Regions from separate parts of the Homo sapiens genome. Here region 2 is reported to be linked to region 1. The links are microRNA targets in miRTarBase. Many come from high-throughput screens and were not tested one by one. Region 1 holds a microRNA gene; the other region holds the end of a gene's coding sequence.

The links. Region 1 holds the annotated microRNA hsa-miR-6885-3p (CUUUGCUUCCUGCUCCCCUAG, at 3,122-3,142, shown strand). A microRNA usually pairs through its seed, bases 2 to 8, with sites in the 3' UTR of a target mRNA and lowers its output. Matches are read on the target gene's strand: a 7mer-m8 pairs with bases 2 to 8, a 7mer-A1 pairs with bases 2 to 7 and ends in A, and an 8mer does both.
Region 2: the mRNA of NRIP2 is a reported target of hsa-miR-6885-3p. Seed matches in the 3' UTR shown: 7mer-m8 at 4,347-4,353 and 8mer at 3,633-3,640.

What each region holds. Positions count from the first base shown.
Region 1 is chr19:6,387,780-6,392,779 of GRCh38, reverse strand. It overlaps MIR6885 (microRNA 6885), which reads left to right and starts at 3,077; the gene lies at 3,077-3,142. It overlaps GTF2F1 (general transcription factor IIF subunit 1), which reads left to right. Exons shown (of 13, transcript NM_002096.3): 3 at 806-878; 4 at 3,143-3,336.
Region 2 is chr12:2,822,598-2,827,597 of GRCh38, forward strand. It overlaps NRIP2 (nuclear receptor interacting protein 2), which reads right to left. Exons shown (of 6, transcript NM_031474.3): 6 at 2,751-4,702. The coding sequence ends at 4,610. ITFG2 (integrin alpha FG-GAP repeat containing 2) reads left to right here. Exons shown (of 12, transcript NM_018463.4): 10 at 197-314; 11 at 1,173-1,346; 12 at 1,493-2,479. The coding sequence ends at 1,596. Among named protein-coding and RNA genes, the nearest start is that of NRIP2, 9.9 kb to the right of the region's middle. RefSeq lists a silencer at 2,526-2,820.

The DNA.
Region 1 (5,000 bases):
TTCTGGCCCTGTCTGTGGTTCTCCCTCCAGACCGGGAGAGACTTGGAGGGCAGGGCTGGGATTAAGCTGAGGCTTCTCTGGGGACAACACTGCTTTTTTGAACGAATGAATGAATGAGTGCATTAATACACGGTGATCCAGCCCCCTGGCCTAACCTTCGAGGAGTATATGGTCCCATGATGCCCAGGCCAGCTGTAAGGACATATTCCTCGTCCTGTTTCAAAGTGGTCAGGCTGTCTTTCCTTTCCAGGCCTTTGTACATCCTGTTCCTCTGCCATGAGTGCCTCCCCTCAACCCCTAAACTGTGACTCTGCTGGGTGAATTCTTGATGATTCTGCAAAACTCAACTCCAGTATCTTCCTCCTCCAGGAAATACTCCCTGCCTGTCCTCCCTCCTCCCCAAGGCTGAGTTCACAATAATCTCCACATCTTGGGTTCCCCCAAATCTTCGTCCCTCCATCTGCTCTTCTTCTGCCTGGGGTCAGGAGAGGATGGGTCTAGCTTCTCTGGCAGACTGGGAATCCTTGGAGTCTTCCGTATCCAGTGTTGCCAGGCAAAACAGGCTGAATGAAGCTGGGTGGGTTTGTTGAGTGAATTGAATTGAATTAATGATTCAATTGAATGGAATGATTGAATTGAATTAATGGTTCAATTGAATTGAGTGATTGAATTAAAGTAATGATTTGATTGAATTAACGATCCAGTTGGGTGGTTGATTGAATTAATGGTTCAATAGCATTGACTGATTAAATTAATGATTGAATTGCTGTATTGGATTGACACTACCTCTTCTCATCCACTCCAGGAATACAACCAAAAAATATAACATCATGGCTTTTAATGCAGCCGACAAAGTCAACTTTGCTACGTGGAATCAGGTAAGTCTCTGAGTCCTGGGGGTCAGGGGCTGGGGTGGTGAGAGAACTTGACCCTGACCTTGGTGGTTGTGATAGTTGCTTAACTGTCATAGTCACTAAGTCTTAATTTTCTCACTTTTCTCCAAGTGAAGAAAAGATAGATGACAAAGGGTTGGGTGCAGTAGTTCACACCTGTAATCCCAGCACTTTGGGAGGCTGAGGCAGGAAGCTTGCTTAAGGCCAGGAGTTTGAGACCAGCCTGGGCAATACAATAGCAAGACCCCAACTCTACAAAAAAATTAAAAAGTTAGTTGGGGCTGATAGCGTGGGTCTGTAGTCCTACATAGGAGGCTGAGGTAGGAGGATCGCTTGAGCCCAGGGGTTCAAGGCTGCAGTGAGCTATGATTGTACGACTGCACTCCAGCCTGGATAACAGAGCAAGACCCTGCCTCAAAAAAAAAAAAAAAAAAAAAAAAAAAAAAACGGAAATGGCAAAGGCCCAGGCCTAGCTCCTGGGTGTCCCTGTAAGTTAGGTTTGGTAGGCCCACCAGAGGCCTCTCCTTAAAGGAGAACATTTAGAAGCTGTGCCCACTGTTGGACATTTTTGGCCATGGTTTATCTGGGCAAGGGAGGGGACTGGGCTGGGGGCTTTCCCAGAGCCCCTGCCATCAGAGGCTCTAGAAAGGACTTTGGGAGCCATTAAAGCATCTTCAATTGGGAAGTTGTAGTGTGTGTGATCTGGCTGCTATGGGGAGACAAACTGTGGGTTTGAGGGCAAATAAACGGAGACCAAGGTAGAAGCAACTGGACTGGTCTAGGTGAGTCCTGGCAGGGCACTGGAGGCAGTGGAGGTTATGAGATGTGGCTGATTCTAGAGTGTTTTGGAAATGGTATATATGGACCTTAAATCAAGAGCTTAAGGGTAATTCGGATCACATTAGCCATGTAGGTCACGATAAATTGTTAATTTGTAGAGATTTTGGTGCCTTAATGTCAGCAAGTGTTGCACAATGAGTTTCTTTTTATTTATTTTATTTTATTTTTTTGTGATGGAGTCTCTTGTCATCCAGGCTGGAGTGCAGTGGCGCGACCTGGGCTCACTGCAACCTCCACCTCCCAGGTTCAAGCCATTCTCCTGCCTCAGCCTCCCAAGTAGCTGGGATTACAGGCGCCCACCACCACGCCTAGCTAATTTTTGTATTTTTAGTAGAGACGAAGTTTCGCCATGTTGGTCAGGCTGGTCTTGAACTCCTGACCTCAAGTGATCCACCCGCCTCAGCCTTCCACCATGCCCAGCCTTTTTATTTTTAGGAAATAGATATAGGATCTCACTATGTTGCCCAGGCTGGTCTTTTTTTTTTTTTTTTTTTTTTTTGGGGACTGAGTCTTGCTTTGTCGCCCAGACTGGAGTGCAGCGCCAGGATCTCGGCTCACTGCAAGCTCCGCCTCCCGGGTTCACGCCATTCTCCTGCCTCAGCCTCCCAAGTAGCTGGGATTATAGGCGCCTGCCATCATGCCCGGCTTATTTTTTGTATTTTTAGTAGAGACGGGGTTTCACCGTGTTAGCCAGGATGGTCTCAATCTCCTGACCTCGTGATCCACCTGCCTTGGCCTCCCGAAGTGCTGGGATTACAGGCGTGAGCCACCGCGCCTGGCCTTTTTTTTCTTAAGACAGAGTGTCACTCTATCACCCAGGCTGGAGTGCAGTGGCATGATCTCGGCTCACTGCAACCTCCGCCTCCCAGGTTCAAGCCATTCTGATGCCAGGCTGGTCTTAAACTCCTGAGCTCAAGTGATCCTTCTGCCTTGGCCTCCCAAAGTTCTGGGATTACAGGTGTGAGCCACAGCACAATGAGTTTCGATATGCATGCATTCTGGAGAGATGTGTGGAAATTCTAGGTACTTAGACATTTTTTGAAAAGAATCCTGGAACCAGATGCCTGCTGTAGATAATAGGGAAGTCTAATTAATTACTTCTACATTCCTCAGATAAGGAATTTTGCCTCCGATGGCCTGCTTGATGGTCACCAGGTGGTCTTTTTCTCTTTAATTTTAATTTGGAAATAATTTCAAGCTTTTAAGTTGCAAAAATAGAGCGCAAGGCTCGCCCAAATTCCCTTTACCCAGATTTGTCAAAGGCTACCGTTCTCCTCCCTTGTTGCCAAGTGGTAAGTTGGTTTTGAGAATCTAGAGCTTGGCCTAGGGCAAGGAAGGGCGTTCCTGGAGGGGGGCACTGCGCAAGCAAAGCCAGGGACCCTGAGAGGCTTTGCTTCCTGCTCCCCTAGGCTCGGCTGGAGCGGGACTTGAGCAACAAGAAAATCTACCAAGAGGAGGAGATGCCCGAATCGGGCGCGGGCAGTGAGTTCAACCGCAAGCTTCGGGAGGAGGCTCGGAGGAAGAAGTACGGCATCGTCCTCAAGGAGTTCCGGCCCGAGGACCAGCCCTGGCTGCTCCGGGTCAACGGCAAATCAGGCAGGAAGTAAGTGGTGGGGCGGTGGCGGTGCCGGCTTAGTGACCAGTCCACATCCCCAGGCCTCAACTTACATACTTTGTGGGGTACCCTCTCTGAACCTCAGATTCCCACTGCTGCAGTGGAAGTGCTGGCACTTCCATCCCTGTAGGATTTTATTATTTATTTATTTATTTATTTATTTATGTTATCTTATTTTACTTACTTGTATTTTTTTGAGACAGAGTCTTGCTCTGTCGCCCAGGCTGGAGTGCAGTAGCACGATCTTGGCTCACTGCAACCCACACCTCCCAGGTTCAAGTTATTCTCCTGCCTGAGCCTCCTGAGTAGCTGGGATTACAGGTGCCTGCCACCACCACGCCCAGCTAATTTTTGTATTTTTAGTAGAGACAGGGTTTCACCATATTGGTCAGGCTGGTCTCGAACTTGGCGATCCTCCCGCCTCGGCCTCCCGTAGTGCTGGGATTACAGGCGTGAGCCACCGTGCCCAGCCTACTTATTTATTTTGAGACAGGGTCTCACTCCGTTGCCCAGGCTGGAGTGCAGTGGTGCGATCGTAGCTCACTGCAGGCTCCAACTCCTGGGCTCGAGATCTTCCCACCTCAGCATCCTGAGTAGCTGGGACTATAGGCACGCCCCACCATGCCTGGCTAATTTTTGTATTTTTGGTAGAGATGGGGTCTTGCTGCGTTGCTCAAGCTGGTCTTGAACTCCTGGGGTCAAGTGATCCTCCTACCTTGGTCTCCCAAAGTGCTGGGATTATAGGTATGAGCCACTGCCCAGGCCCTGGGGTTGTGTTTTTGAAGACAGTTCACTGAGTTGGTGCTTGTGCCTGGCTCTGAGGCAGCTCTGAGTGCCACAATGCAGGAAGCTTAGGTGGCCAGCCCTGGGAGCTCATGACACTTGAGATGACCTCTCAGAGGGGGCAGACTGAGGGCAGAACAGGAGGGGTCCAGGTTAGGTTGATGAAGGGTGCTCCAGGCACAGCAGTTGGGTGATAGTGACAGACACAGGCAGCTCACACAGGGCAGTGGGTGCCAGGATGTGCTGGGTCCAGCGGAGCCTTGGAAAGCTGTAGGCAGGGAAGAGGCACTCACCCAGACTGTCCGGAACTTTGGGGTAGAAAAGAATGAGGTAGAGGCCTCAAGGAGGCTGGGCAGTTGTTTAGGCTTGAGGAAATGGTGGCCCGGGCCAGGTGTCCACTTCAGATTTGGCCATGCCATGGCTGGGCGCGGTGGCTCACGCCTGTAATCCTAGCCCTTTGGGAGGCAGAGGCGGGCGGATTACGTGGGGTCAGGGGTTCGAAACTAGCCTGGCCAACATGGTGAAACCCTGTCTCTACTAAAACTACAAAAATTAGCTGGGTGTGGTGGCAGACACCTGTAATCCCAGCTACTCGGGAGGCTGAGGCATGAGAATTGCTTGAACCCGGGAGGTGGAGGTTGCAGTGAGCTGAGATGGTGCCACTGCACTCCAGCCTGGGTGCCAGAGCGAGACTCCATCTCAAAAAAAAAAATTTGGCCATGCCTTCCCGCCCCATCTTCTCACTTGGCTCCTCAGTTTCCCGGGTGTGGCCCACAGATAGCAGAGCTGGAGGCAAATGTAGACAGTTTGACTGCAGGGTTGGGCTCTCCTGAGATAATCTCACACAGTCTTTCCAGAAATGATCCCGA
Region 2 (5,000 bases), not on the chromosome of region 1:
TTTCTATGAGCTGAGGTTTCCTCAGTATAAAATTGCCTACTTCCTAGGGTGGCTGTGAGCATTATGTGAGGTGGCTCATTTGACAGTTGCGTTTACTGCCGAACCCACGGGTGAAATTCCTCCCCAGCTCGCTGTTTGTCATCCAGAATCCAGTCCACAGCTCCTTTATGTTCCTTTTGTCTCTGTCCTTTTTCAGGGCAACGGGCATGAGGAGGTAGTTGCATGCGCCTGGGATGGACAGACATATATCATTGATCACAACCGCACCGTCGTCCGCTTCCAAGTGGATGAAAATATCCGTGCCTTCTGTGCAGGTGACCCCCGCCCCCATGGCCCCTTTCTAACCACACTTAAGTTAGATAGGCGTGTTAGGCATGCCAGGGAAGTGTTTGCCCCTCACTTCCCTTTCTGACGTATCCCCTGATGTAAGTCTTCATTCACCAGTGAGTTCTTCAGCTCTTTTGTTTGGGGGTGAGGGGTGAGTGATGTAAGTCTTCATTCACCGTGAGTTCTTCAGCTCTTTTGTTTGGGGGTGAGGGGTGGTCACTACATTGCCATCTTGACAATTTTAAATAAGAAGAAATAAAAGACAGTAACATCTCCACCCCGAATATTTTAAAGAATGGAATGAGTTTCTGTCATCTGTCTGGGATGTGTGAAGACATCAGGAAGTTCTTTTCCACCTCAGCATGCCAGGTCTCTGTGAAGAAAGTTCTCCTAGAGCATTTTCATTAGTTCCAAATCAGGGGCCTTGGGAGGCAGCACTCACTCTCTGGGTGACTGGGGGATGCATTTGGAAGGAGGGATTGGCACCTAAGAGAAGCTTTACTTTCTGATCGTGTTTTGCTAGTCTCGCCCTTGGGCGAGCAATGCCATCCCTCATCACTCCAGGGATATCACTAAGATGGGAAAAGCAATAAATAGCACCTTTTTGGATGCTATTCTGCCCGGGTTTTGTTACTATGGTTTTTCTACATCTGAAGTGAGCCAGGTCTTTTCCCATCTTACTTGTTTTACTGAGTTCCCAACAGAGAAGAAATAACCTTTAATTTTTTTCCTGACATCAGTGGGAGGATGGAAAGTGCTGACTCGGAGGTCTGTGTCTTGCTGTCTGCCCCCCACTGTCGGCACTGAAACTTCCTGACCTTTATCTCCCTGCCAACATCTTCCAGGCCTGTACGCCTGCAAAGAGGGCCGCAACAGCCCCTGCCTCGTATATGTCACTTTCAACCAGAAGATCTATGTGTACTGGGAGGTGCAGCTGGAGCGGATGGAGTCTACCAATCTGGTGAAACTGCTGGAGACCAAGCCGGAGTACCACAGCCTGCTGCAGGAGCTGGGCGTGGGTGAGTCCCAGAAAAGCCAGTGGCCCGAGTGCCCAGGAGACCCACAGCATGCTGCAGGAGCTGGGCGTGGGTGAGTCCCAGAAAAGCCAGTGGCCCGGGTGCCCAGGAGACCCACAGCCTCTTACCCACCCCTTCTTGGCTCTCAGATCCTGACGACCTCCCTGTGACTCGTGCCCTGCTTCACCAAACGCTCTACCATCCAGACCAGCCACCACAGTGTGCTCCCTCAAGCCTCCAGGATCCCACCTAGCTGTACTTGCCTCATAGCTGGTGAAGGATTCTTCTGAACCCCCACCCTACCCCCTAAAGGTATCTGTGGTATTGGCAGGATAGGGAATATGCATTACAGAAATGCAGGATTTGACTCTGGGCATGAAAGATGGCAGCAGCCCTAGGGTGACCGTGAACTATAGACCTCGCAGTCTTTTCGGTGAAAGAAGAGACAAGTTGACCCTCTGCCCATTTCCTTATGGACCTCACCCATCATGCCAGCAGGGTCATAGGACCCTGGCCTTGTTCCAAATCATCTGGGACATGACCCACTCCCCACTGTCACTGTGTTGAAAACAGAGACTTGTTTGTGTGGCCCCAACACCCATAAGGAAACCAGGCTTTAGGCCCAGGGGAGCAGTGGAGGTAAGGGCTCCACCCCATCTTAAGCTCTGTCTTCCGTGGCACAATTCCAAGTTCTTGACGTTAGTAATTGTTAAAGGAATGGCAAACTGTTTTGTTTTGAAGGATCTTTCTACAGTCTGGTCTTACCCATGTTCCTAGCAACCCTGAGATGATTTTCTTCCATTTACCAAAGCAGCCGGGTCAGTGCTTTCTCACGTTGCCGTATTCTTCAGGTATTAGTCAGCTTCAGAAGCCCTGCTCCCATTTTTCCACCCACCCATTCCCCCATAAAACAGCTTATTGTCTCCAAGACAATAGACATTTAAAATGTGATGCGGGTTTATGATCCAGACCACAATCAGAATTATATCTTGGGTCATTTATGTGCCGTCTGTTCTTGATTCTCTATGCTCTAAATCGGTGTTTTTCAAACTGTGGTTGCAGTCCTTTGGTGGATTATGGCCAGCATTTTTTAAATAGGTAGAATAGAATAAAGTAAAATAGAAAATAGCAGAGTACATTGCTCTCAGTGTAGGTAAGTATTGTTTTGTTAGTCATATGTGCATGTGTGTACTGAGTGCCATGTAAAATGTATTCCTGCTGTGGTAAGCTGTGGTCGAGGAGTTTGAAAGCCATTGCTTTCAAATTCCTCTCAATTATACTGACCCTAGTCAGATGGGTCAGCCTGGGCAAGGGCCCACATTTACATTTCCTTTCTGTAAGGGACAATGGGCAATTATCACTCAGCTCTTGATAGGCAGGGAGGAAGACCAGAGAAGAACATCGACATAGAGAAACAAGAGTTTATTCCAATGGAGAAGCAGCTGAGCCGAGGGCTTGCCATTGGGCCTGGGGTCTGCAGTTACAGAAGCAGCAGGAGGCAGACAAGGAAAGGCACAGCACAAGACCCAGGAAAGTGGACCTTGTGGAGCAAGGCAGTGAGGGCGAGGAAAGCTTTTAGGATTTTGAGACCAGGTGCTATGGCACAAGTGATAAGTGAGCCCTCTCCTTTCCTTCTGAGGGCAGGGGAGGCAGCTGAGAAAGGGCAGGGGAGGCAGCTGAGAAAGGGCAGGCCAGGTGTCACAGGCAGCTCCTTGCATCCCGGTTCTTCTCTAACCCAGTCAACCCCAGGCTCAAGACTGTTTCAGCCCAACGGTCCCAGTTCCCTTGTTCAGGTTAGCTGTACCACTGTCTTTCTCTGCTCCTTTTTTGTTTGTTTTTGGAGACAGGGTCTCACTCCTTCACCCAGGCTGGAGTCCGATGGCACGAACTTGGCTCACTACAACCCCCATCTCCCAGGTTCAAGCAACTCCTATGCCTCAGCCTTCCAAGTAGCTGGGATTACAGGTGTTCACCACCATACCTGGCTAATTTTTGTATTTTTTAGTAGAGATGGGGTTTTGCCATATTACCCAGGCTGGTCTCAAACTCCTGACCTCAAGTGATCCACCCACCTCAGCCTCCCAAAGTGCTGGGATTACAGGCATGAGCCATTGCGCCTGGCCTCTTTCTTTACTCCTAATCCATGATTTGAGAGACTCAAACCAGCCAGAAAGACTCTCAGGGATCTGGCGTCTTAAGGTTCGGGTTCTTCTCTTCACAGTGAATTCAAAAAAGCCTCTGTCTCCTGACAGACCCCAAACTTTAAAAAAAAAAAAAAAGCCTCTGTCTTTTTGCTTTGGCAAAGCCTGGCAGGGGGTTAGAAAGCCACTGATTCCAGGACAATACAAGCTTAAGCTCAAGAGGCCAGAGATGGGGATAGGAAGAAGGCCTAATGAGGTGGATAGTTCTAGAAATCAGAAAGAATGCTGAATAGGTGAAGTCTGAGTGGTGACAACCTCACTGTCCTGTCTGCCTCACAGGAGCAGTTCTCTACAAGGCTCTTCCACACACACACACGCAAGGCTCAGGGGCTCGGTGGGTACAAAAAGCCAGTGGAAACGGATAAATACCTATAGCGTTAATAGCAGAAGTATGTCCAAGGTTTTGCACAGGGTAATCAAACTAACTGGCTTCAGACATTTGCAGCCACAGGAAAAAATAGCTCTCAGCCTTATGAGATGGACATTCCTATACTAACTCCCGCTCTTTGTTGTATTGAATTCTGGCTGTTTCTTCCCCCACTCAACTGTGAGCAGATGTGCACAGACTCCGAGAGGCAGACACCAGGAGGTCCAGGGACATAGGTTGGTGAGGCATGGCGGTCTAGTTGTGGGAGATAATGAGGCCCAGAAGGTGTGGTGAGAGACATGGTGGTGTGGGAAGTTGAGTTGTGTTTGGGGTGGTATTGGGTGATGGACAAGGACAGCAGTCAGCAGAGCCTTCGACCCAGCCCAAGCAGGCACCCCATTGTGCTTAGGTTCCTATCTGTGGTCTTGATTTGGCTTTGCTTTTCTTGGGAGGAAGATGAATCAGAATCCTGGCATCGTGGGCCCTCTAGTGAAAACTCGTCCTGGGGAGTAGGACAGCTGCTGAGAAGCAGAGAGGAATGCGGCCAGCTGGGGAAAATGGGACAGCAGGGGTCAGGGAGGTGATTGGAAGGGCAGACACCATAGTCCCCAGCTACCTGGCTTCAAGAGCCCCCGTTCCCCACACGCCTCTTCTTCTAAGGCAAGGTCTTTCCCTCTGGGGACTGACTGAGACAGCAGTCACTGGCCAGGCTCTTGGTACAAAGGCAGGAAGGGTAGCTCTGAGAACGGGGCTTTCAGCCGCAGCACTCCGTGCTCCAGGTCGATGCAGCACTGCGGGGTGTAGAGCAGTCATGCCAGGTCACCTCAGCCCGCCACCTGCCTCCCGGCCTGCTCCTTTTGTTCCCCCTCCCACTTCCCACAGCTTCCACCTGCCTTTTGCTCTTCCCCCATCCCCATTTCCCTAGACTCCTGTTGAAGGGGGTGACCCAGTTCTCTTGATTTTTCACTTGGTGGTAAGTAAGGAACCTCTAAGGAAGCAAAGGGACAGTTGCCCATCTCTAAGTCACTCTCATCAGAACCTGGTCCAGGTTCCACACCTGTGCCTTCTACTACTTTTTCCCAGTGCTTT